Linked DNA regions of Homo sapiens. The protein of the gene in region 3 purifies or fractionates together with the protein of the main gene of each other region. This does not show direct contact. Each region holds a gene or a part of one and is shown on either strand. Other genes may lie near its edges.

The links.
Region 1: the proteins of TCF20 (region 3) and PHF14 purify together in Homo sapiens (affinity purification with mass spectrometry; one large-scale study listed by BioGRID and IntAct). This does not show direct contact.
Region 2: the proteins of TCF20 (region 3) and IFT172 purify together in Homo sapiens (affinity purification with mass spectrometry, with the first as the bait; one large-scale study listed by BioGRID). This does not show direct contact.
Region 4: the proteins of TCF20 (region 3) and MTA3 purify together in Homo sapiens (affinity purification with mass spectrometry, with the first as the bait; one large-scale study listed by BioGRID). This does not show direct contact.
Region 5: the proteins of TCF20 (region 3) and TRAF3IP1 purify together in Homo sapiens (affinity purification with mass spectrometry, with the first as the bait; one large-scale study listed by BioGRID). This does not show direct contact.
Region 6: the proteins of TCF20 (region 3) and NUDT12 purify together in Homo sapiens (affinity purification with mass spectrometry, with the first as the bait; one large-scale study listed by BioGRID). This does not show direct contact.
Region 7: the proteins of TCF20 (region 3) and HSD17B4 purify together in Homo sapiens (affinity purification with mass spectrometry, with the first as the bait; one large-scale study listed by BioGRID). This does not show direct contact.

What each region holds. Positions count from the first base shown.
Region 1 is NC_000007.14:11,165,872-11,170,118, reverse strand, and holds the end of PHF14 (PHD finger protein 14), read right to left. Parts: intron 704-4,247; coding exon 629-703; 3' UTR 501-628; downstream 1-500. UniProt on the Homo sapiens protein: Histone-binding protein. Binds preferentially to unmodified histone H3 but can also bind to a lesser extent to histone H3 trimethylated at 'Lys-9' (H3K9me3) as well as to histone H3 monomethylated at 'Lys-27' (H3K27ac) and trimethylated at 'Lys-27' (H3K27me3).
Region 2 is NC_000002.12:27,455,244-27,458,743, forward strand, and holds part of IFT172 (intraflagellar transport protein 172 homolog), read right to left. Parts: intron 2,981-3,500; coding exon 2,883-2,980; intron 2,734-2,882; coding exon 2,598-2,733; intron 2,513-2,597; coding exon 2,396-2,512; intron 1,411-2,395; coding exon 1,268-1,410; intron 1-1,267. UniProt on the Homo sapiens protein: Required for the maintenance and formation of cilia. Plays an indirect role in hedgehog (Hh) signaling, cilia being required for all activity of the hedgehog pathway.
Region 3 is NC_000022.11:42,208,154-42,211,653, reverse strand, and holds part of TCF20 (transcription factor 20), read left to right. Parts: coding exon 1-2,003; intron 2,004-3,500. UniProt on the Homo sapiens protein: Transcriptional activator that binds to the regulatory region of MMP3 and thereby controls stromelysin expression. It stimulates the activity of various transcriptional activators such as JUN, SP1, PAX6 and ETS1, suggesting a function as a coactivator.
Region 4 is NC_000002.12:42,718,632-42,722,131, reverse strand, and holds part of MTA3 (metastasis-associated protein MTA3), read right to left. Parts: intron 3,145-3,500; coding exon 3,058-3,144; intron 1-3,057. UniProt on the Homo sapiens protein: Acts as a component of the histone deacetylase NuRD complex which participates in the remodeling of chromatin.
Region 5 is NC_000002.12:238,323,518-238,327,017, forward strand, and holds part of TRAF3IP1 (TRAF3-interacting protein 1), read left to right. Parts: intron 1-1,788; coding exon 1,789-1,857; intron 1,858-2,291; coding exon 2,292-2,453; intron 2,454-3,500.
Region 6 is NC_000005.10:103,556,290-103,559,789, forward strand, and holds part of NUDT12 (NAD-capped RNA hydrolase NUDT12), read right to left. Parts: intron 3,180-3,500; coding exon 2,590-3,179; intron 1-2,589. UniProt on the Homo sapiens protein: mRNA decapping enzyme that specifically removes the nicotinamide adenine dinucleotide (NAD) cap from a subset of mRNAs by hydrolyzing the diphosphate linkage to produce nicotinamide mononucleotide (NMN) and 5' monophosphate mRNA.
Region 7 is NC_000005.10:119,500,997-119,504,496, reverse strand, and holds part of HSD17B4 (peroxisomal multifunctional enzyme type 2), read right to left. Parts: intron 2,457-3,500; coding exon 2,405-2,456; intron 1-2,404. UniProt on the Homo sapiens protein: Bifunctional enzyme acting on the peroxisomal fatty acid beta-oxidation pathway.

The DNA.
Region 1 (4,247 bases), on a different chromosome or scaffold from region 3:
GACCTTGCACACAGCAGGTCCTTAGTAAATGTTTTATAAATTATAAATCATGGCATTACTTCTGCCAGAGACCGTCAAATTATCATTTCTTTTTAGTCTTTCCCTGCAGTCCTAGAGTATCGTGTAATATATAAATAGATGAAATCAGGAAACAGTATTTCTCCTTGTGGCATTGACTGGTTTTAACCATTTTCATGTGCAAGCATTCCCTGTTCATTTTTGAACTATGTTGGTTTTTCTTTATATTGATAATCAAAATTATGTTAAGGCCCTTAAAGAAGAACACAGAGTCTAGTAAGAAGAAAAAAGACTTTCAGAGGTTTTTTTTTTAGGTCATTTAAATGTGTTAACAGTTAGGTTACAAAAAAAATAACATTCTGTCTCTGTTCTCAAATTTGAGTTAAGAATTTTTCTCCTTTTAAAAACTTTTAAAGGTCCAGCTTTTGAATAAAAAAGTCGAAATTACTCTAAAATATACGAATTCCAAATACAAGCTCCTATTTCATTTTGAATGACTTTATTGAGAACATTTTGCAAATTAGATTTTACAATTTAACATTTTACAATTAGAAATTTTATCTGCTATTACATAAGCTGCAAACTTTTCAAAAACACTACAGAAAATCTTTTATTTCTTTGGATTTTTCTGTTCCATGTTGAGCTCCTGAGATATATTTTTTCTTTCAGCTTCATTTTCATCTTCCTGTGAAATAAATTTTAGAAAACATTAAAATATAAACTTTAGAGCATTTATCAGCTATACTTGACAGATTTTAACTGCATCTGTAGAACTATGAACTACTGTGATTCTAATAATCCTAAACACAAATGGTAAAATTATGTAACATTTAAATATTTGCAATAGGTGCTGTTTTATAGAACACATTAAAATTTTCTGTATGTTTTTAAAAGCAACCAATTTTAACAATGCCCTAAAAATTACTTTGGAAACACCTGCCACTGAAAAGTGTTCTTTGCAGGGGATGAGCTAGATATTTTTACTTCACTGCTTGACAAAAAACAATAAATTTAATTGCTAAGACACTTCATGTGCTCCAGCATGGCATTTTTTTGCCCCATCTAGTATACTTTCTTGACAGGTGTGCCAATTTTCCAATTACTTGTACCACCATATGTTATCTGAAGATCAGTGAGGTCTAAAATAGGAAGCATGTGCATGTCGGCTTAGAATGCTTACAATCTTCTACAGTTTCAATTCTAAGTGGTGGCCTCATAATTCATAGCAGGTTCCTGTGGAACATGGTGAATAGATGAAATGACATCATAATGTCTGCTTTCATAGAAATGAAGTGCATCTTGTGTTCAGTATTAAATGGTAACCTTCAAAGTATAAGCAATGAGAGTCTGGAAAAATATTTCATCTTACAATTTGTAACCCATCTCATCATACATGTTCTTTCAACACACCCAAGTACAAAACAGTCTTGCTTTCCTAATATTTCTGATTTATCATTTAAGATTATTTATTTTTATTAACTGACATAAAGGTACTCTTCTGAGTTAATTAAAGCATAAACATCAATTTAAGTATTTCTAGACAACAGTAATAATCATCAATATCATCAAACATACCACTCTATCTCTGTATCTGATGAAACCAAATTAAATCATTGAATTAAATAATTGTTGAACTCTACTTTGTGAATTGACTTTATAAAGTAAAAGCAAACCAAGGTATGCATATTTGTTTTCTATGACAAACTACATACTTGCCAGTAATGATTAAGGCGGGTGAAAAAAGCTTTTTTATATACTTTGTTTCTCTAAACTCAACGGAATCTGTGATTTAGACTTTGTTAACACTGGGAAAGTAGAGAAATTATCAATATTATCAACCAATCTGAATCATTATAGATATGTAGAACACCAGGAATGGGGTTTTGAATATCATTTTGGCAATGTAACTTTGATATATTTTTCCAAGTATGATAGCCACTGTTTGTCATTTCATTTTTTCCTTATTTTATCTCCAGTGAATAGATACATTAAGTTTGATTCTTGAAAATTTATTAATGAACATGTGTTTTCCACTTTTAGAAAAAAGTTCCTACAGATGACATTTCTTTTTTTTTTTTTTTGAGACGGACTCTTTCGCCCAGGCTGGAGTGCAGTGGCGCGATCTCTGCTCACTGCAAGCTCCGCCTCCCAGGTTCACGCCATTCTCCTGCCTCAGCCTCCCGAGTAGCTGGGACAGGCACCCACCACCACGCCCGGCTAATTTTTTGTATTTTTAGTAGAGACGGGGTTTCACCGTGTTAGCCAGGATGGTCTCGATCTCCTGACCTCGTGATCTGCCCCGCCTCAGCCTCCCAAAGTGCCGGGATTACAGGCGTGAGCCACTGCGCCCAGCCTAGAGATTACATTTTAACTACATTATAATAAAAAGTAAATCTTACTCTACACTTTCCCCTGTCTTCTTCAGGAGAGACACTGTTAGAAAGTGTTAAATCAGCAGGTACGGATGGCAAGAAATTTTTGATATGTAGCACTGAATTTGTCCATCTGTTCCTCAAAGGAAGGTTTTATCTTCTGTATCTTATACATTCCTACCATCTAACAGGACATACTTAGTATATAGTTGTAGTCCAATCAATATTTTCTGAACTATGTGAAACAGTGGAATAATGAACGAATAAAAGGTATGCCTGAATTAATACATAATTTGGAAAAGCACAATATTGTTCTTAACTATCGTAAATTAAGATTGCTAGTACTCACACTTCTAGCAATCTTAACTTACTATATAACAACAGTGAAAATAAAAATAAGCAAAAATGTTTGAAGCAACATGAGCCAAAACAGCCATTATCAAGCTCATACCCTTTAATTTATAAAAGAAAGATGGAGCCTTTATCACACGGACAGTCTACTAAGTTTCTCCACCGTATGACTTCCCGGTTTAACATGCTTGGCTATCTAGTTTTCTCTAGCAACCTTGCTGCTCTAAGTCAAAACACAAATGTAAAGACTTAATAACCCCAAGGACTAGGAGGTACTTATATACTTTATTTTCATATTTAACTATGGATATAAGCTATTGGAACATGGTTAAATGAAATAAAAATTTGCAACTTCCATTAATTTGAATATGTTTTAAATATATGGATAAGATATATATAGATATGCCAGTTAAGTAACATTCTTAATATAATGTTTGTCTTTTTGTTGTTGAATTTTTCTTAGAAATAAAGTACAGTTTATAAATGCATGCCTTCTAACACTGCCTGCTGTTCAGGACAGGTACATAACTGTTTCACACCTTTCTTTGTGCTGAGGATTTGTCTTAAAACATCTTGCCTTTTATGCTGTTAAGTCACTTATATAACAAATAAGAGCCAATCTCTTTCTTCCTTTTAGAAGGATAGCTGTAACCTAGGTGCAGAAAAGCATTATGAAGGGGTGAAAAAGGCATTCCACTCTAATTGCTAGAGTATAATATTAAAATTGCTATAACATTATCAAAATAACAGTAATAGATTTTATCATAAATAACATTAAAATTTGATCTAATAAAGCTCTAGGGAAGTCTTTTTGGAAATGCTAATTTATGTTTTTCACATTGCAGGTCAATTTTTGTAAGAATTTATACGCAGTTCCAGATTAATAAAAATCATTAAAGTAACTCAGACAGCAAATAAAATATAATTGATAAATGACTGCATAATAAATAAAATTGCAAAGGAAGCTTTTTACCAAAGCATTTCTTTACTACTGGATATTATAGGTAAGCAAAAATTTCTTCTGATATACAGGAGGGTTTTTTTTTTTCTCTCTGCTGAGATAAGACATCTGTTTGTTTCCCAATGAAAGAAGACCCTGGCTACATGGATCATTTTCTTAGTGACAGCCCTGACAAGTTTGACATTTGTTTCATGAAGTGTTCTGAAACAATCGTAAAGAAAATGTATCCTTTGAGGCTACTGGAAAGTAGACAGGCTTACCTCTTAATGTTTAAACTTGTTAATTCATACTCTAAAAAAATACACTGACTATAACAACTTTGCAGATCTGCTAGTTATATGTGAAATTTCAAGAATGTGCACTCAATTAACAGTAACACCTGTAATATCAAATGACAAAATTTGGTTCCTTAGCCTTGCTCTTTTTACACGGACAGAATTGTAGTGAGAATGGTAATTTCTAGGCACAGATGGACCATTTAATAATGGGCTGATACTCCAGGTGGCAATATGAGACTGAGTTATTCTAACAGAGAAATTAAGTAA
Region 2 (3,500 bases), on a different chromosome or scaffold from region 3:
GCTCCAAAGTCATCGTCTGGTTTCTAATTGTGATGCTGAAGTATGGTAAATTGGCGATTTTGAAATAATTGATGATCACAGCTAGGAAAATTGCTGTGAACCTCACAGGCAGGCTAAACAAGTGTAGAGTGATCAGCCCCAGATTTGATGTGCAAATCAGAGATCTAGAAAAATGGCAGAATATGCCGGGCGCGGTGGCTCACGCCTGTAATCCCAGCACTTTGGGAGGCCAAGGCAGGTGGATCACAAGGTCAGAAGATTGAGACCAGCCTGGCTAACAGGGTGAAACCCTGTCTCTACTAAAAAAGTACAAAAAAATTAGCCGGGCGTGGTGGCGGGCACCTGTAGTCCCAGCTACTCAGGAGGCTGAGGCAGGAGAATGGCTTGAACCTGGGAGGCGGAGCTTGCAGTGAGCCAAGGTTGCACCACTGCACTCCAGCCTGGGCAACAGAGCGAGACTCTGTCTCAGAAAAAAAACAAAAAAGAAAAATGGCAGAATAATCTGCTCCCATCCTGCCAGTTTGGTTTTATTGTACTGACAACCTCAGTTGGCATCATGGACCATGAAGAAGCAAGACAGCAACATATAGGAGGGAAAATCCTGGGATTCTTTTTCTAGAGATGTAATACATATTTACAAATAAAATGCTTCACGGACTCTGGTGCTTCCAAAAAAAAAGAAAAGTTCGGCCAGGCGCAGTGGCTCACGCCTGTAATCTCAGCACTTTGGGAGGCCAAGGTGGGCAGATCACGAGGTCAAGAGATCAAGACCATCCTGGCCAACATGGTGAAACCCCATCCCTACTAAAAATACAAAAATTAGATGGGCGTGGTGGTGCATGCCTGTAGTCCCAGCTACTCGGGAGGCTGAGGCAGGAGAATCATTTGAACCAGGAGGTGGAGGTTGCAGTGAGCTGATATCGTGCCACTGCACTCCAGCCTGGCGACGGAGTGAGACTCTGTCTCAAAAAAAAAAACAGTTCACTCTGCATTTGACAGAATCACACTTCCATTACCCAGGAGTAAGTTATTGGTTTAGTGCAGTCTGCAGTCCTAGCTTTACAATCTGTTTCCTCTCCACCCTTCTTAGAACAGCCAAAGGTTAAACACTGTTCTGAGCCCCTAGGGAATAGAAGCAGTTAATTTATTCATGCCACTCTATCATGTCCTTCCAAGGATCTTTCTTTCAGTTATACATCAATTTTCTTTCTCTAGATAGTGGCTCTGGCTGGGATGGGGCCCGTGGAGAGAAAGCTTGGGGCCTCACCAATTGTCTGCAGCGTGGTCAACAGCAGCTTCCAGGAGTCCCAGCTTATTAAGCAGTCTAACTGCAGCCTCTCCTCCCAGGCTCTTTGCCCACAGATAGGCCACGTGTTTGTGGGCATTAGCCCCTCCTTGAGTTCTGGCCACCTGTAAAGCAAAGTCACTCAATAATCCTGCAATACAGAGCTTCTCCCTTCTCATCTCTGACCTCGGCTTTGACAAGGATCCAGTAACTGTTCTAAATTGAACAGGAAGAGGCTGGGTGTGGTGGCTCATACCTATAATCCCAGCATTTTGGGAGGCCGAGGCAAGAGGATAACTTGAGGTCAGGAGTTCGAGACCAGCCTGGCCAACATAGTGAAACCCCATCTCTACTAAAAATACAAAAATTAGCTGGGCACGGTGGTGAGTGCCTGTAATCCCAGCTACTCGGGAGGCTGAGGCAGAAAAATTGCTTGAACCCGGGAGGTGGAGGTTGCAGTGAGCCAAGACTGTGCCACTGCACTTCAGCCTGGGTGACAGAGCGAAACTCCATCTCAAAAAATAAAATAAAATAAAAAGTTAACAGGAAGAGGGCTAAATTTCAGGGTTTCTTAACTTAGGTTAAAGTACTTAGGGTCCAAGGATAGGCTTCACCTGGTCCACAGACCCTTAAAATTATAAGTGAAATTTTCTGTATACAGATGTGGACATGGTTCTGGCAAGAGAGACTCTGATCTTCACTACATTTTCAAAGATGCTCTGACCAATTGTGAATTAGTCACTTAAAGTGGGAAAGAAGGGCTGGGCAAGGTGGCTCATAGCTGTAATCCCAACACTTTGGGAGGCCAAGGCAGGTGGATCGCTTGAGCCCAGGAGTTCAAGACCAGCTTGGGCAACATGGTGAAAACTTGTCTCTACAAAAAAATTAAAAAATTAGCCAGCTGTGGTGGTGCACACCTATAGTCCCAGCTACTCAGGAGGTTGAGGTGGGAGGATCGAGTGCTTAAGCCCAGGAGGTCAAGGCTGCAGTGAGCCATAATTGCACCACTGCACTCCAGCCTGGGTGACAGAGTGAGACCCTTTCTGAAAAAAAGGAAAAACGTGGGAAAGAAGGATGGATGTATCCCTCAGTGTGGCCTGAACTCCTTACCCTGTAGGCCTCTTCCCAAAGCCCACTGGCCCGGTACATGTTCACTGTTGCCTTCCATTCCTGGGCCTCGAGGTAGTGGTACTCAGCCTCCTGTAGTCGGCCTTCAGCCTCCAGCTCCTGCAGGAAGGTGAGTCAGGATGGAGAGATGGGGAGATGGAGCCTGGTTGGGGAAGAGATAGGGAGAGCCAGGAGAAGGGCTCACCTTGCCCAGATGTAGGTGTGTATCACTGAGGAGATCTGGATGGTGCTTCCCTACCAGGCGGATCATGTCATCATACAACTTGTGCTTTTTGTACATGGTGATGGCAAGATCAGGCTCTTGTACTGTCACATATAGCCTGGGGAAGGAGATACATCTGGGGCCTCCTAGACCCGACCCCTGCTATCACTGCCTTCTGGGCAGAGGGTACACATCCTCAGACCCCATCCCTCGTCCCAGCCTTGAAATCTCATCTCCCTCTACACCTCCTCTGGGGCCACGGCTCACCTTTCAGCCTCACGGTACTTGCCCTGCTTCTCCATTTCCTGGGCCTGAGTGATGTATAGCACTGACACATCTTCTGGTCTCATGCATTTCATCGCCAGCTGTGGAGGCACAGAGGCAAGGCAGCCTCAGATCCAATTCCCCAGGGAAGCAGGGCTTCAAGGAAACCTGCTTGTTCAGAAACTCTGAACTCTCCCAACAATCACAGGAGTTTGGGTATTGCCACTCTACTAGTGAGGTTGGGGAATTCCAAGTCCATAAGAAGCAGAGGAAGAACTATATTCTGCTAAGGTGGGAAGGTCTGCGATGCCTTGGCTGGGGCATACACTCCCATTACCACGGTAACCACTGGACTCTGAAGTGTAGGCGCAAGAACAAAGTCATCAATGTGACCAGAGGCATTAGGAGTGGTAGTTCAGATTCCCCAGCTCCCAAGCCCATCTGCTCCTTCAGAATGATAGATAGGTCTGGAAACAAGGGCCTCTCTTCATCCCTTCCTTTCCCTATGGCTAGGGATCAAAGTGGCTCAGACTGTTTTTTGGTACTCTTTGTCAGCTTTCAGGGAGCCAAGCGAAGAGGAGAAACAGGTATCAAGGAATGAGGCCACAATGCCACTAAGGC
Region 3 (3,500 bases):
CTGATGGACATGGACTAGCTGAGGCTACACAGTCATCCAAACCTGGTAGTGTTATGCTGAGACTTCCAGGCCAGGAGGATCATTCTTCTCAAAACCCCTTAATCATGAGGAGGCGTGTTCGTTCTTTTATCTCTCCCATTCCCAGTAAGAGACAGTCACAAGATGTAAAGAACAGTAGCACTGAAGATAAAGGTCGCCTCCTTCACTCATCAAAAGAAGGCGCTGATAAAGCATTCAATTCCTATGCCCATCTTTCTCACAGTCAGGATATCAAGTCTATCCCTAAGAGAGATTCCTCCAAGGACCTTCCAAGTCCAGATAGTAGAAACTGCCCTGCTGTTACCCTCACAAGCCCTGCTAAGACCAAAATACTGCCCCCACGGAAAGGACGGGGATTGAAATTGGAAGCTATAGTTCAGAAGATTACATCCCCAAATATTAGGAGGAGCGCATCTTCGAACAGTGCGGAGGCTGGGGGAGACACGGTTACGCTTGATGATATACTGTCTTTGAAGAGTGGTCCTCCTGAAGGTGGGAGTGTTGCTGTTCAGGATGCTGACATAGAGAAGAGAAAAGGTGAGGTGGCTTCGGACCTAGTCAGTCCAGCAAACCAGGAGTTGCACGTAGAGAAACCTCTTCCAAGGTCTTCAGAAGAGTGGCGTGGCAGCGTGGATGACAAAGTGAAGACAGAGACACATGCAGAAACAGTTACTGCCGGAAAGGAACCCCCTGGTGCCATGACATCCACAACCTCACAGAAGCCTGGTAGTAACCAAGGGAGACCAGATGGTTCCCTGGGTGGAACAGCACCTTTAATCTTTCCAGACTCAAAGAATGTACCTCCAGTGGGCATATTGGCCCCTGAGGCAAACCCCAAGGCTGAAGAGAAGGAGAACGATACAGTGACGATTTCACCGAAGCAAGAGGGTTTCCCTCCAAAGGGATATTTCCCATCAGGAAAGAAGAAGGGGAGACCCATTGGTAGTGTGAATAAGCAAAAGAAACAGCAGCAGCCACCGCCTCCACCCCCTCAGCCCCCACAGATACCAGAAGGTTCTGCAGATGGAGAGCCAAAGCCAAAAAAACAGAGGCAAAGGAGGGAGAGAAGGAAGCCTGGGGCCCAGCCGAGGAAGCGAAAAACCAAACAAGCAGTTCCCATTGTGGAACCCCAAGAACCTGAGATCAAACTAAAATATGCCACCCAGCCACTGGATAAAACTGATGCCAAGAACAAGTCTTTTTACCCTTACATCCATGTAGTAAATAAGTGTGAACTTGGAGCCGTTTGTACAATCATCAATGCTGAGGAAGAAGAACAGACCAAATTAGTGAGGGGCAGGAAGGGTCAGAGGTCACTGACCCCTCCACCTAGCAGCACTGAAAGCAAGGCGCTCCCGGCCTCGTCCTTTATGCTGCAGGGACCTGTTGTGACAGAGTCTTCGGTTATGGGGCACCTGGTTTGCTGTCTGTGTGGCAAGTGGGCCAGTTACCGGAACATGGGTGACCTCTTTGGACCTTTTTATCCCCAAGATTATGCAGCCACTCTCCCGAAGAATCCACCTCCTAAGAGGGCCACAGAAATGCAGAGCAAAGTTAAGGTACGGCACAAAAGTGCTTCTAATGGCTCCAAGACGGACACTGAGGAGGAGGAAGAGCAGCAGCAGCAGCAGAAGGAGCAGAGAAGCCTGGCCGCACACCCCAGGTTTAAGCGGCGCCACCGCTCGGAAGACTGTGGTGGAGGCCCTCGGTCCCTGTCCAGGGGGCTCCCTTGTAAAAAAGCAGCCACTGAGGGCAGCAGTGAAAAGACTGTTTTGGACTCGAAGCCCTCCGTGCCCACCACTTCAGAAGGTGGCCCTGAGCTGGAGTTACAAATCCCTGAACTACCTCTTGACAGCAATGAATTTTGGGTCCATGAGGGTTGTATTCTCTGGGCCAATGGAATCTACCTGGTTTGTGGCAGGCTCTATGGCCTGCAGGAAGCGCTGGAAATAGCCAGAGAGATGGTGAGTATGAGAAATCTCTTACCAGCTTGGGATTTTTATTTCATTTGGTTCCTTTTCTTGCATGTTTTTGTTCTTACATGTCACATGATTATTCCTCCAAATTAAAGTGCCTATGCCCATGTGATGGACAGAAAATGAAATAGGTAATTTGGAAGATTTGTATAGACTTCTAAAATCGTTTTTCATTTTTTGAAATGTATAATGCTTATGAAGCATATTATTATATTTCAAGTTTCTTGGGCCACATCTTTTCTAACGCACACTTTCCAGTTAGGATATTTATTCTTTGGATCTGTTTCATAACTTATCCTGGGGCAGATCATCAACATCATCATCTTCATTTCTTTCTCTCCTCTATTGAATGTTCTGTTTCCTGAATCCCATTTCTTCCTCATTCTTAAAGTGAGCCTTCATTTAAGGGCGTGCATCATCCTTTAGTAGTTTTGTGAGAAAGGGTGTGTGGGAGTGTAAAAATGTTGAGATCCTATATATCTGAGCATGACTTTATCCTAGCCTCATGCTTAATTGAGAGTTGGCTAGGTGTGGAATTCTAGATTGGAAGTGATTTTTCTCTCACTGTCTTGCAGTCGTTCTTCCTGGTTTGTCCACTAGCTTCCAGTGCTGCAGTTGAGAAGACTGCCATTCTAATTTTTCATCCCTTGATGCATGTTCTGTTTTTCTTCTGGAAAGTTTGAGGATCTTCTCCTTTTCCCTAGGGTCTTGAGATGTCAAAATGATAGGTCTTGACTAGGTCATTTCATGGTTGTGTTGGCTACTCTATGAGATCTTATGTACGCTGATGTCTTTCAGTTCAGGCAATTTGTCATGTGGTAGTTCTTTGAAAATTTCCTTCCCTCTATTTTCTCTGCTCTCTTTATAATTCCTGTTAATATAAGGCATTTTACCTCCTGGATTGATCCGCTGTTTTTATCTTTTCTCCTCTGTTTTATGTTTTATCTCATTATCTTTTTGTTCTGATTTCTCTATGCTTTCTTCAGCTTTATCATCTAATCTTTTTTGTATGTGGGTTTTGTTTTGGTTTTGTTTTGTTTTGTTTTGTTTTGTTGTCACTCAGGCTGGAATGCAGTGGTGCGATCACAGCTTACTGCATTCTCGAACTCTGGGGCTCCCTGGTACCTGGGACTAAAGGTGTGTGCCACCATGCCCAGCTAATATTTATATTTTTTGCAGAAACAAGGTCTCACTGTGTTGCCCAGAGTGGTCTCAAACTGCTGGACTCAAGCAATCCTTCCACTTCGGTCTTCTAAAGTACCAGGATTATAGGCATGTGCCACAAGCCACAGTGCCCAGCCTTCTAGCCTTTTATTTACTTATTTTTTTTCTTGATATTTTGAAGAGCTTTTTTTTTCTCTGAATGTACTGACTTTTAAAGAATAATCAGAGCCTAGTTGATGGCTATAATCGTTTCTCTTGCTTTTTGAATACATTATAACGTATTTTTTGTTTTTGTTTTTGTTTCAGTTTCATGCCCTTACC
Region 4 (3,500 bases), on a different chromosome or scaffold from region 3:
AAGCTTAGCAGCTCACTGATTCTCAGAGTCATCATGCAGCTGGCCAACTACACACAAGCCACCCTGCCTTCTCACCCTTTCACTGAAGGTAAGGGCTGAGATATCACCCTTATTTACTGGAATTTAGGAAAAGCCATTGGAATTGTTAGAATTACTACAGCTCTGGTCAAAGTCCCACACTTGCCAAAATTTAGAAATGGCTTAAATACTACCACCGAAAAAAGTGATTTTTTTTTCTCCAACATGACATGACAAGTTTGCCAGCCTTGCATTTCATTTAACCTCCACAGTCTATGCTCCATCTAGACCAAACAAGCTGCTTTCAAGTCCTTGGACTCACTGAAGCCTTTGTTCATCTGGTTGTCTTGGCCTTATGAGGGAAGAGAATACGCTTTTCCTATTTTTCTACCTATTCGAATCCTAAATATCTTTTAAGGCTGAAATTAACTATTACTTTCTTCAGGTAGGCTGCCCTAACGCTCATTAGAAAAAATTCCCTCATTGGCCAGGTGCAGTGGCTCACATCCGTAATCCCAGTACTTTGGGAGGCCAAGGTGGGCAGACTGCATGAGTCCAGGAGTTCGAGACCAGCCTGAGCAACATGGTGAAACCCTGTCTCTACAAAAATTTTTAAAAATTAGCCAAGTGTGGTGGTGCACACCTGTAGTCCCAGCCATTCAGGAGGCTTAAGTGGGAGGATCACCTGAGCCTGGGAAGTGGAGGTTGCAGTGAGCCAAGATGGAGACATTGTATTCCAGCCTGGGTGACAGAGTGAGACTCTATCTCAAAAAAAAAAAAAAAGAAAAAGAAAAAGAAAAAGAACAGTCCTTCCTCCAAGTGCCCAACGCATATTACCTGTAATTATTTTACAGGATCTAATCCTTTGTTTTATTGTTCTTACCTGCTTGCTTTCCCCACTACACTAAGAATTTTGAGGGCAAGGTCTTACCCATCTTGGTGTTCCCCAAATCACTTAGTACAGTGTTTTCAACATATAAATACTCATAAATATATTGTGTAGGGATGTGGTTCAGCTGGTAAGAACAGCACAGTCTGGGCCTATCTGGTAGATATAGAGACCAATTTGCCCACAGTAGGAGCACACAATTATTCTTGGAAAGGCTAATAATGTTATATTCTTTTTTTCTTTTCTTTTCTTTTTTTTTTTTTTTTTTTTTTTGAGACAGGGTCTCAATTGGTCACTTGGACTGGAGTGTGGTGGCACAATCTTGGCTCACTGCAACCTCTGCCTCCTGGGCTCAAGCGGTCAATCCTCCCACCTCAGTCTCCTGAGTAGTTGGGACCACAGGCACGCACCACCACACCTGCCTAATATTTGTATTTTTGGTAGAGACAGGGTTTTGCTATGTTACCCAGGCTCAAACTCCTGGACTCAAGCAATCCGCCTGCCTCTCAAAGTACTGGGATTACAGGCATGAGCCACCATGCCCGGCCTATTCTATTTTTTGTGATCAGAAACTTTCCCATGCAAGGTGGGAAGGGGCATCTGGAGACAGTTCTGCAAGGGAATACAGACCGCACTCTTCAAGGACATTACCACCATTACGTAGGTCATGTGTACAATAACCATGTGACATTTTCAGGGGATATCAAAACAACTCTTTAACCCCTGAGAAATAAAGCAAGAAATGGCCGGACGCAGTGGCTCATGCCTGTAATCCCAGCACTCTGGGAGGCCGAGGTGGGCGGATCATGAGGTCAGGAGATTGAGACCCTCCTGGCTAACAAGGTGAAACCCCGTCTCTACTAAAAATACAAAAATTAGCTGGACGTGGTGGCGGATGCCTGTAGTCCCACCTACTCAGGAGGCTGAGGCAGGAGAATGGCGTGAACCTGGGAGGCGGAGCTTGCAGTGAGCCGAGATTGCGCCACTGCACTCCAGCTTGGACAGAAGAGTGAGATTCCGTCTCAAAAAAAATAAATAAATAAAATAAATAAATAAATAAATAAATAAAGCAAGGAATAAGGTAGTACAGTAACATCAAAGAAGAAGCTTTGAGCCTCTGAATCCTGGAACATTCTTTTGGGTAAGGACTAGATAATATACCAAATTCAAGACTACACTTTGATTTTTAAAAGAGTTGATGTCTGCAGTCTGAACATTTCATAATTATAAATCTTTCTGTCAAAGCAACTCTGAGTACATATTTCACTTTACTGAAAAAGAACTATGAGAAGCACAAAAACATGCCATTCTTGCTTCTAGGTATGTGAAAAACCATTATTTTGTAAGTTATTTCTCTTAAAACTTTGTTTAAACAAAGAGATTATTGCATAGTAATTTTGTATACTATTCTTAATTGTGATATTTCAACATAAAAATGGAGCTATCATCTTTGGAGATTTCCAAGTCAGATGGCATGATAAAAATAAGAAAGCAATACAAATGCCTCCCCTTCAAAGTCACCTAAAGCACACCAAAACTATAAATATTTAAGGCTTGAAGCAGTGGCTCACATCTGTAATCCCAGCACTTTGGGAAGTCAAGGCAGGAAGATCGCTTGAGGCCAGGAGTTTGAGACCAGCCTGGGCAACAAAGCGAGACCCTGTCTCTACAAAAAACAAATAAAATAAAAAATTAAAACCTATAATTATTTTAAGATAAGTTATAAACCAGTTTGATCTCATTTTAATAAGTAAATAAATCTTCTATTTAAAAAGAGGTGAGGTGAGTTAGAAACAGGGAAGGGATCTGAAGAAGAATATTAAGACTATTCATCCTAAGTACTAACTGAATGCTTTTCATTTTCTTTTTTGCTTAATCTGTATTTATTTCCATGAATATATATTACATTTTTATTCGATGGCTTTTTGGAAAAAGTAGACATATATCATAAATCTGTGTGTGTATGTGTGTGTGTTGTGTGTGCTGGTAATAAAAGTTTCTGAAACAAAATAAACTGACTATATAAAGGTATCCAATTTCGGCTATTTGAAGGGCCTGAATTAGTTTAGGTATGTCCATTTAGAATTGCCAAATATCTATACTATTCAGAAATTGCTCTTTGAGTTTTTCCTCTATTAGAAAATACCCACCTAAATACCCAATGATACATGCCAAAGGCTTCCTAGTGCTTTTGCTTTTCAGTGGACTTCCAGATAGTTCAGCATGTCTGTCTGCATCTGAGGAGAGAAAGAAACATGGAGATAACCAATGAAATGGATTTCTCTAGCCAGACTACATGCACCACAGAAATAAAGGTACAAGTGGAAAACAGTACAAAATAGCCACCAGATTCCCGCATAATTTCCTTTTGGGTTTGAGAAAATGGTTTCTAGTTCTGGTTCCCAATTTCTAAATGGGATTTACATAAAATAACATGTAATTATTAGTAGTAGTATTATTTTGAGACGGAGGCTCACTCTGTCACCCAGGCTGAAGTACAATAGCGTGCTCTCAGCTCACTGCAACCTCCACCTCCTGGGTTCAAGCAATTCTCCTGCCTCAGCCTCCTGAGTATCTGGGATTACAGGTGCAC
Region 5 (3,500 bases), on a different chromosome or scaffold from region 3:
ATAGTGTGGTGTGGAATGAAAACTCCTAGATTCATTAATACCTAACTTGATGCAAATTAAGGAGTTGTGGCTTGATTCCAGAGGAGGCTCTCATTAGGGTGGGACTGTCTTGTTTTTAAAACATGTCTTCCCGTAATAAATATGCTTTATTAGCTGACCTAGGATATGTGGCTATGAGCATACCTGTCCTTACCACATACCATGCAGCCTGCTGGTAAGGGTCCCAGCTATTCAAAATGCTTGTTGCTACAAATTGTATTGATTTTACAGTAACCTACCACATTTCAAAAAACTGCAGTCTGAGACAACCCAGGACCCTGGCTGGGTGTGGTGGTTGAGAGGAACAGGAAAAATAATTGCCCTAAAAGCTGGTTTTAGGGCTAATTAGGAGGTACAGGTTACCTGAGGGAAGGGATGATTAGGGAGAGAACCAAAGCAGTGAGGTGTGGAGCCTGCCACCATCTTAAGAAGTGAGTAGTGACACGTGGTGAGGAGAAAGACCCTTGCAGAACTTCTAGTCTTAGCAAACTAGGTTGAGAAATTCCTTTTCTTTTCTTTCTTTTTTTTTGAGGCAGAGTCTCACTGCGTTGCCCAGGCTGGAGTCCTGTGGCATGATTCTGACTCACTCCAACCTCCACCTCCCGGGTTCAAACAATTCTGTTGCCTCAGCCTCCTGAGTAGCTGGGATTACAGACGCCCACCACCATGCCTGGCTAATTTTTGTATTTTTAGTAGAGACGGGGTTTCACCTTGTTGGCCAGGCTGGTCTTGAACTGCTGACCTCAAGTGATCCACCCACCTCGGCCTCCCAAAGTGCTGGGATTACAGGTGTAAGCCACTGTGCCCAGCCAAAGTTCCTTTTCTTTTTGGAATCTGTTCCCTCCATTGCACCTGAAGGACTCTTGTAAAATGCCGTTCCAGGTCCTCCTCGTGGTCCTTCAGCTCAGTTCATGTCCCTGAGTGGCTTCACAGGGCCTCTGCACCAGGCCCCGAGTGTCTCTCTGGCCTCAGGCTCCTGCTGTCCTACATTTCTTTTGATCCCTTGCAGGGGACTCTGTGGGTCCTGGACCTTGTGTGGACTTTCATTTTCTTTTTTTCTTTTTTTTGAGACGGAGTCTGGCTCTGTCGCCAGGCTGGAGTGCAGTGGTACGATCTCGGCTCACTGCAATCTCTGTTTCCTGCTTCAAGTGATTCTCCTGCCTCAGCCTCCCCAGTAGTTGGGACTATAGGCGAGCACCACCACACCCAGCTAATTTTTGTATTTTTAGTGGAGACAGGGTTTCACCATGTTGGCCAGGATGGTCTCGATCTTCTGACCTTGTGATTTGTCCGCCTCAGCCTCCCAAAGTGCTGGGATTACAGGTGTGAGCCACCACACCCAGCCGTGTGGACTTTCTTATGTTTGGCATGTGCATCCGAAATGTCCCCTTGCCCAACTCTTCTGTAAGCCTGGTCCCCATCTAGGTATGATTCCTCCAGGAAGGGTTCCCTGCCACTCCTGCTCCCTCCCGGATTGTGGATTAGGTACCAAGCCTGAGTGCTTCCTTAGTACCTGCATGGTGTCATCTTTACCTGTCTGTCCACACAGCCAGACTAAGTTCTGAGAGGATCTGGCTGGCTTCTGCCCTGCACAGCACGTGTAGTAGACATCAAATATTTCTTAAGTGGATGATTCAAATCTGGGCTGCTAGTCAATTCTGACATCTCCCAAGTGTGGAGTTGAGTGGATGAGGCTGATGAGGAGGCTGTCTGTGAGGTGACATGGTGGCCTTTCTTTCTCTCTTGAAGGTGATTAGAATGACTGGTTTCATGAAGGGCCTCTACACAGACGCCGAGATGAAGTCTGATAATGTGAAGGTGGGTTTGAGTCGGGCTTCTCCTATTGACTCCTCGCCTTAACGGATGGGATTTTTTGTAGGCCTGGTAGTGTGGCTTGTGTCATTTCTCTGCTGCATGTGGTTGGAATACAAGGTCAGTGAATTCGTAAATTGATATATATACCCTTTCTCATTTCATTTTCTCATTGTGGCAACTGGATGTCATGCTAGTTTTATTCACTGAAAAATGGGATTAGTATTTCAAAGGTTAATGCTAGCCCATCAACTAAATTAAAGGCTTTAATGAATTGTTTTTGTTTTGTCAGTAAAAGGTCAGTATTTCTAGATTTGTTATATATCTAAAAACAGCTTTGTATGTAAACAGAAACTATCCTATGCCTGGTAAACATACAGAAGATAATGCACACTCTTCAAAGTATTGTAATATTTGTATTTTCAATGGAAATGTTTCAGGATAAAGATGCAAAAATTAGCTTCCTACAAAAGGCCATAGACGTGGTTGTAATGGTGTCGGGAGAGCCACTGTTGGCCAAACCAGCCCGAATCGTGGCGGGGCATGAGCCTGAAAGAACAAACGAGCTGCTCCAGATAATTGGAAAATGCTGTCTCAACAAGGTACTACTGCTGTCCTGGCATTTTGAACTTACTTAGTACTTGAGTAAAAAGTAGTCGGGGGTGAGGGACTCACATGTGCGGGCGGTTTAGGGAAGGAGTTTCAGTGGTGTCTGTCAAACACTGTGCTTTGAATCTGATCCCACCCCTTCTGGAGCCCCAGAGATACAGAAGGAGTAATTTAATACTGAATGATAAAACAAATAAGGGTATGTAATACGCAAGTTCTGCAAGCTTTCAGTAGAAAGTCGGGAACCCTGCAGGCACACTGTGCCTGGCTGGAGGCTGGAGGCTGCAGGCCCAGGCTTCCATGCCCTCTGGCTTTCTCCTTTCTGAGGCTCCCTTGAGGACAGGTGGCTGCTTCCAGCCAGGGCTGCAGTGGCTGCAGGAGCTGCTTTTCTTCTTCCCTGGGTCTTATGGGAGTCTCTGTTCTCTTCCTCCATCTCCAGCCTCTGGTGTCTGCTTGCCTGTTGCCCTTCCTCTCTCTCTTCCACCTTTTCTCTCTCTCTCGGTTGCTGTTTCAGTTGTACGGGGAGTAGATTTTTTCTTTCTTGAGCTTTTCACTGTGGGCTAGAAACTTGGGTGTCAAGGCCTCAGGCTTCTCTAGTTAGGTCCAGCCTGGGCCATGTTTGCCCAAATGTTGGAGAAGGTCTTTCCCCAGGGTCTTCCTTCTTTTGAGGGCCGAGTAGTGCCCTGTGGAGGAGCAGGTTGGACTTGTATTGAGAGTGTAATTAATACAGTTTTTCACATACCTAGTGGGTGGTTGGCTGGGGGCTAACCTTAAATGTGACCCAAATGGGAACAGGTAGGTTTCAGCCCCCTCAACAGCAGTGGGTAGTGGAGGTGCATAGTGGTATCAGGCCGACTCCTAGGAGGCCCCCCCAGTGCAGGTCCAGCATGCAAACTTAGAGACTTGGAAGCAGATCTTGCCAGTACACTGGCCTCTGTCCCTAGGCTCCCCAGCTCCCCTTCCCGGGTCCTTTATGTTTCTCATCTTTCTAAAAAGCACATCTGGCTCCTGTCTCCTCTGCTGAATCATCTCCGGCTTCC
Region 6 (3,500 bases), on a different chromosome or scaffold from region 3:
TGTTTGAATAAAATATAACTTTCATATAAGATAGACATACTGACATCTATCTTACATCCTATATTAGATCAGGCTTTTACTGTAGGTGATTTTAAAATTTGGGGTATTCATGATTCTAGTGTAGAGTAAGTTTACAAACAGTGATTTTACAATAGTGATTTTAATAAAAATATACCACAAAGTCAGTTCTTAAGTGAGATTTGTACTCTAAAGGAAATATTACTAGGAAACTGTAGGAGGCTATCACCACTCTCTTGGTGACTATGCCATTGATGGTCCAAGCCATGTGGAACACAACCTGTTTTCAACTGGAGACTGCATGTACACAGTATAAAACACACTGCATTTACTACATTCATGGTTAACTTTGTTTACCAAAAAATGCCTAATAGGATAAATCTTAAAATATATACACTTTAGCTATAGGTTTTACTCTGGTAGTTCAAAAAAAGTTAATATGGCCTGGCCAGAAATATTACAGTTGAGGCAATAAGACTAGAAATGCTATATGTTAAATGCTTGACAAAGTTACCCTCCCTAAAATAGATTATTTGGTCTACAGATTTTTGAAATGAACAAAATAATAACAAAAATTCTAACATCGTTTAAACTGGGAAAAATAAATAAAACAGTTGTAATGAATAGACAACATTACGTTTTTGCCTGCTACGTAACCTTGTAATATGTAACTTACACTAGGGTATTTACATTATTTCAGAATCATCACAATAAGAAAAGCTAACATTTATTGAGTACTTACAATGTGCCAAGCACCATGCAAGGAATTTTATATAGATTATTTAATGTTTAGAGCAACCCTAAAGAAGATAGATACTATTATTATCATTTTCTTTAGGAGTAAACTGAGTCACAGAAAAGTTAAGTAACTGTGTAAACTTATAGAGCAAGTGAGTTAAAAGGCCTCAGTTTTCCTACAAGGGAAAAAAGCAAGCAACTAGCTCATTTATCAGATCTTTTTGATCTTAAAATGATATATATATATATATATATATATGTCTAAAGAAAATAAATTTTCTTAAAAAAGTTTGATGATTTCTCCACAGGTGTGGAGAATAAAACATACCACACCAGACTTTGAGGAGGAGATATTTAAGCAGTCTCTGGAAGGACCTCTATCACCTAAGGGAAGGTGGTCACTGACAAGTGACCTATTCCTAACTTCCCAGTAACTCATCAGTCTACCATAATCTGGTTTCTGTTCGTTTCACTCCACTGACGTTTCTCTTGTCAAGTTCATCAATAGCTTCATATTACCAAAGACAAAGATGCTTTAAAAAACAAAACAAAACAAAAAAACCACTTTGCCTTCATCTTACTCAAGTTCATAACAGCATTCAATACATTTGACCACTCCCTCCTGGAAATACTCTGCTGTCTTGGTTTCCCTGAGGCCTCTTGCTCTCTTCCTACCTCATGGCCACACTGTTTCCAACTCCTTTGATGGCTCTCCTGCTTGCAGCTTACCTTTAAATTTAGGGGGATTCAGGTCTTATTCTGAGTTTTTCTTGCTTCCTCTCAACTCTCCAAGTAATCTCAGTAGTTTTTTGGGATTTAAGTATCTGTGTGTTGATGACTGCCATATGGGTATTTCCAGTTCAGACATCTGATTGTAATGTCCATTTCTAAAACTTAGTATGCCCAAAAGTAAACTCTTGATTTTTTTAATCCAAGTCTGTCCTGCTTTCCTTGCTCTAACCATCATCCTATATTATTGAGAAATGGTATCACTATATACCAAATTATTAAAGTCTCTAGCCTAGCAGTCATTCTTAATCTTTTCCTTCATTATTATATATCCCATATCCAATTCAATAGCAAAGACCAGTGATTTTCTCTCCAAACTTTATCTTGCATATACCCTCTTTCCTCCATTTCTACTATCAGTACCTTAATTCATGCCATATTACCACCATCTCTCACTTATAAGGGTCTCAACCTACAGATCAAGCCCTATCCCTTCTACCTCGAGAATACCTCAGATTCTCCCTTTGTCTCCATCTCCACTGCCTCCATTCTAACTCAAGCCATTGCAATCTCTTACTTGGGCACCTGTAATACTCAATTCCCTCTTAACAAGACTCCCAACTTTCACACTTACTTACTTACATGTGTACAATTTATGCTCTATGATGCAGCCAGTGTGCAGTGTCTTTTTTAAAAAAATATTTTAAACACAGGTTAGGTTACATTTAAATGGCTTTAGAATCAAACCCCAATTTCTTACCATGCCATAAAAAGCCCCATCAACAGAATACAAAACAAAACAGTCAAAGTCTTTGCCATCATGTTCTACGTGTAGCAGGAACTAAGAATTATTCAATGAAGAATCAAATGAGATCATCATGCACCAGGGTTAATTCTCAGGAAATCAGTCTGGGCTGATTAGAACTACTAACTGCCCAGGAGAGTAGTCCCCTAGGGTGAGAACTTTAAGAAGTTTCTGATGAAGACAGTCTAATTTCACTGCTTACTGGAAAAAGAGTGCCCCTGGAAAGTGCAAATACATACAACTCCAACTCAAGTCTAAAAACCAGATTTTACCAATGAAAAGCAGCATTCATTTCTTACCAGCTTCTTTTTCTTTCAATTGCAGAAGGGCTGGCATAGGAGGATGAAGAAAGTAACAATTTTCATGTCTTTGCTTGAATTCTTCAGCAGCAATAGGATCTATACCTAGAGCAAACCAGGCAACCAATCCATCTTCCTCCTCTCTCGGGACTTCACCAGCATAATTAAGTAGTTTGTCTTTTATTTCAAGTTCTACTCCAAGAAAAATCAAGGTGATCTTCTCAGGCTGGGCCAAATAATCCTTTATATCTGTGTAGTTCAGCTGACAAAGCCTAACTTCTGGCTGTTGGAAACTTTCTTTATTGCCACCTAGAGTAACCAAGGGATTTAAATCTGAGAAAAGAATAAAAACTGTGGCTGGATGGCTTTCTTTAGCTAGCAGCCAGTCAGAATTATTTCTCTTTTCACTTTTCCGGTCCAGTAGTGTTTTGCTAAAATAATTTTCACATTCTTCCACTTCATTCGTTAGGAACCAAGGCTTCTTCCCACCTTTAGCAGTAGCTAGTAAATTAGCTATATGCTTATAACCCCAAAATACAGCAATGTCCAGTGCAGTCTGCCTTGATTTATTGACAATTGATCTGTCACACCTATAGATGGAAGAAAAAATTGGGGAGAAAAAGTAAAATAGGAAGTAAACACTTTCTCCGTATTTATTTCACTAAAATATTTCCAGATACATATTAAAGTCCTTCTTTTTAATGATTACATAGATTTTTTTTCTTTTGTTACATAGTTTACTATTGGGAAGGTTAAAAGAACAATCATAAATGACAAAAAGTTAAGAGACAGTGGATACTTACACTTTCTGGATAATTACTCACAAAATAAAACAGTATTAAGCTTTATGCACTATAAAGAGATACCAAAATTCTACAAGAAGTCCTTGGTAGTCATAGTGAGATCTGCAT
Region 7 (3,500 bases), on a different chromosome or scaffold from region 3:
GATACCATGTCACATCAGTCAGAATGGCTATTACTAAAAAGTCAAAAAAATAACAGATGCTGGTGAGGCTGCAGATAAAACAGAACATTTATACACTGTTGGAGGGAATGTAAATTAGTACAGCTACCATGAAAAGCAGTCTGGAGATTTCTCAAAGAACTTAAAACAGAACTACCATTTGACCCAGCAATCTCATTACTGGATATATACCCAAAGGAAAAGAAATCATTCCACCAAAAAGACATATGCACTCATATGCTCACTGCAGCACTATTCACAATAGCAAAGACATGGAATCAATCTAGGTGCCCATCAATGGTGAAATGGATAAAGAAAATGTGGTACATATATACCATGGAATACTACGCAGCCATGAAAAAGAACAAAATCATGTGCTCCGCAGCAACATGGATACAGTTGGACGTCATTATCCTAAGTGAATTAATGCAGGAACAAAAAACCAAATACTGTGTGTTTTCACTTACAAGTGGGAGCTGAACTCTGGGTACACGTGGACATAAAGATGGGAACAACAGACAATGGGGACTACTAGAGTAGGGAGAGCAAGAACTGAAAAACTACCTATTGGGTACTATGCTCACTACCTGAGTGATGGGATCATTCATATCCCAAAGTTTAGCATCACACAATACACCCACGTAATAAATCTGCACAGGTACCTCCTGAATCTAAAATAAAAGTTAAAATTCTTTTTTAAAATAATAAAGTTTATATAAAACCAAAAAAAAAAAACAGACAGAAAAGAAAGTACTGCTGCGTTCCTTCACTCCTTCTAGTGGTTATTTTTAACATGATTAGGGTAAGTCAGCCTATGACACTACCACTATAGCCAACAAATGAGCCATTAAGAGATGTTGTTATCAGTCTCCTGATGCTTGACACTCTGTGTCTCATCAATTGGTGTGTTTTATAAACAGTAGTAGATTATAAACAGTAGTCGTGACCTTGGTTTTCTGCAGTTTAAAAGGTTCCAAACCACAAATATCTCATATTTTGAACATTCACATTTACTACACAGTAAATTTTAAAACTGCTTAAAGAAAATGCACAGGCTGAGAAAAAATAATTCATGAGAAATATAACTTGAGGCTAAGGAGGTAAAAAAAAATGAAAAAGTTATTCTCTACACCTTCCTATTCACATCACTGTTCAGTTATCATCACTCTGGAGTATACATCTAATCTCTCTTTTCGTATTTTAAAATCCCTAACGGCAGAAACCTATCTTGCACATTTCTACTTCCCTTATAACAATGGTTTCCAAGTGGACCCATAGGGCTGGGTACATATGAAACATGTAAGGAGCTTCCTAGCCACTGTCACCAACACCACCACCCCACCACATACATACATGCACACATACACACACACACACACACACACACACACACACACACACAATTTCCAAGGTTGGGATTGAGAATCTACATTTTACTTAAATTAACAGATAATATAATGTAATAACTCGGGTGATTTTGATATACAGACAGGTTAGAAAATTACCTACTACCTAATACTGTGCCTTGCAAATACTGGGTATCCAGCAGATATTTGATCAATGCACAATCACCACAAAGTGTACTGTTTCACATAAAAAGAGCTGTTTTGAAACCTTATGCTATAATACTTACACTGAAATAAAGCTATTCAGCTTCAAGCAATAAAAATCTCATACATTTTTTAGAAAAATAAAAAGGTTTAAGAAAAATATTCAAGTAGGATTCTAGCTACTTGCCGACCTCTACATTGTATAACATGAAATGACAAATATTAACAAAACATTCCTTTTTGTATTCTACCACCTTATATGACCAGTATATAATTAGACAACATTCAAACATCAAAGTAGAGAAATAAATATATCCAATTATAGTGAAAAAAATTAAAAGAGATTTACTAAACAAGTAAGATATTTTTGAGAAAAGTAAAAATGATTATTAAAGACTTGTTTTTATTTTCTCCAAAAAAAAAGAAAAAAATGAATTACAAGAAATTCTGTATCTTTTAACATTGTTTGCTTTATGAAAATCAGTATAAAGATAAATACCTGAGAAAAGAACAATAATCATAAGAACCATAACAGATTATATGCAATCACTAAGTCTAGAGCACATACACGAACGTTCCTTTCAGTTGTTAATAACACATACATCAACAGAGATAAATTATGAAATAAATTTTTAAGACTATTAAAGGACAAAGCTTAAGGTGACCAAAACAGATACTAGTTAACATCAGTCTACTCTAATGGCTCACATGTGCATAACAATTTGTGATATGTTTCATTAGGTCACTCTATACCAGTTTAACACACTGATGTTGTTTAAAAGGTTAATCTGGAAATAAAAGTATGGTATTATGGAATTAGTATATCAATAACTCACCTGCTCTGGGAAGTGGTTTATATAACTCTAAGTACTGCTCTCCATGAAGAACCTATGTTAGGGTAAACAAAATTTTATTAGCAAACTTTCTTGCTCCACAGGTTCTGCCTATGGATACTGTTACTCGCAAGTGACATTTTACCATCCACAGGCTCACATTTCTCTCCAAGTTATCTATCTCTGTTTGGCTTCTTCTTAATCATGTGATTGAAAAATAATCAATCCCCCAATCTCAAGACAGTCAGCTCTTCTGGAGCAGAGAAGATATATTTGTGTTCTTTCTTGGCGTTCATAAAGCCTTGTTGACTGTTAATTACATATTATTTGCCAAGAGACAATAAACTAGGCTGTATTCCCAGAACTTATAACAGTGCCTGGAACATATTGGGCATCCAATAAATATTCATTGAATAAGAATGAACAAATGCGCCAGTGCTAGTAATTTCAGGTCACATATACCAAATACAAACGACACAACTAAAACACAAAGAAAAACCTTACAACCATGTTCAAAATGAAAGCACTGTCAATGTGAATATCCCTTTCTTATAATACTTTGTAAATTATCTACAAAGAGTAGATACTAAGGACACTGTGTAACTTAATAGCCACTTAACCTCAATGTATCAAACAAAGAATGCACCAAGGTATATAGGAAAACAACAGGACAGGAAAACCAAAACTTGAAGCATACACTCAAATGATCCCACTTTCACTGCAGAGGGCCAGTTTACCAGTCTTCCTCAGAACCCAAAAGGATTTTAAAAAAAAAAAAAAAGGAAGAAGAAGAAGGGGAGGTGGTTGATGAGAAGACAAATGAAGGTCAGCTTTACTGTGTCATACGGCTTGAAAAAGTCAAGGTTAAGAAGACTAGGATTCAAGTTCCAAGATGCATGAACACCATTTACGATTTCCAATTGTTAGGGGGAATTTTGAAACATTTGTTTTAATTTTTTGCATTTACATTGTTCAGAGTATATAGTAACTAACCATGGGAGTGTGAATGAAACAGCAAACTGCCCAGCACATATTTCTTGTCTTCCTCCCAACTTCATGAAACACTCTAATAAAATAAGTGGCCATCAACTCAGAGCAG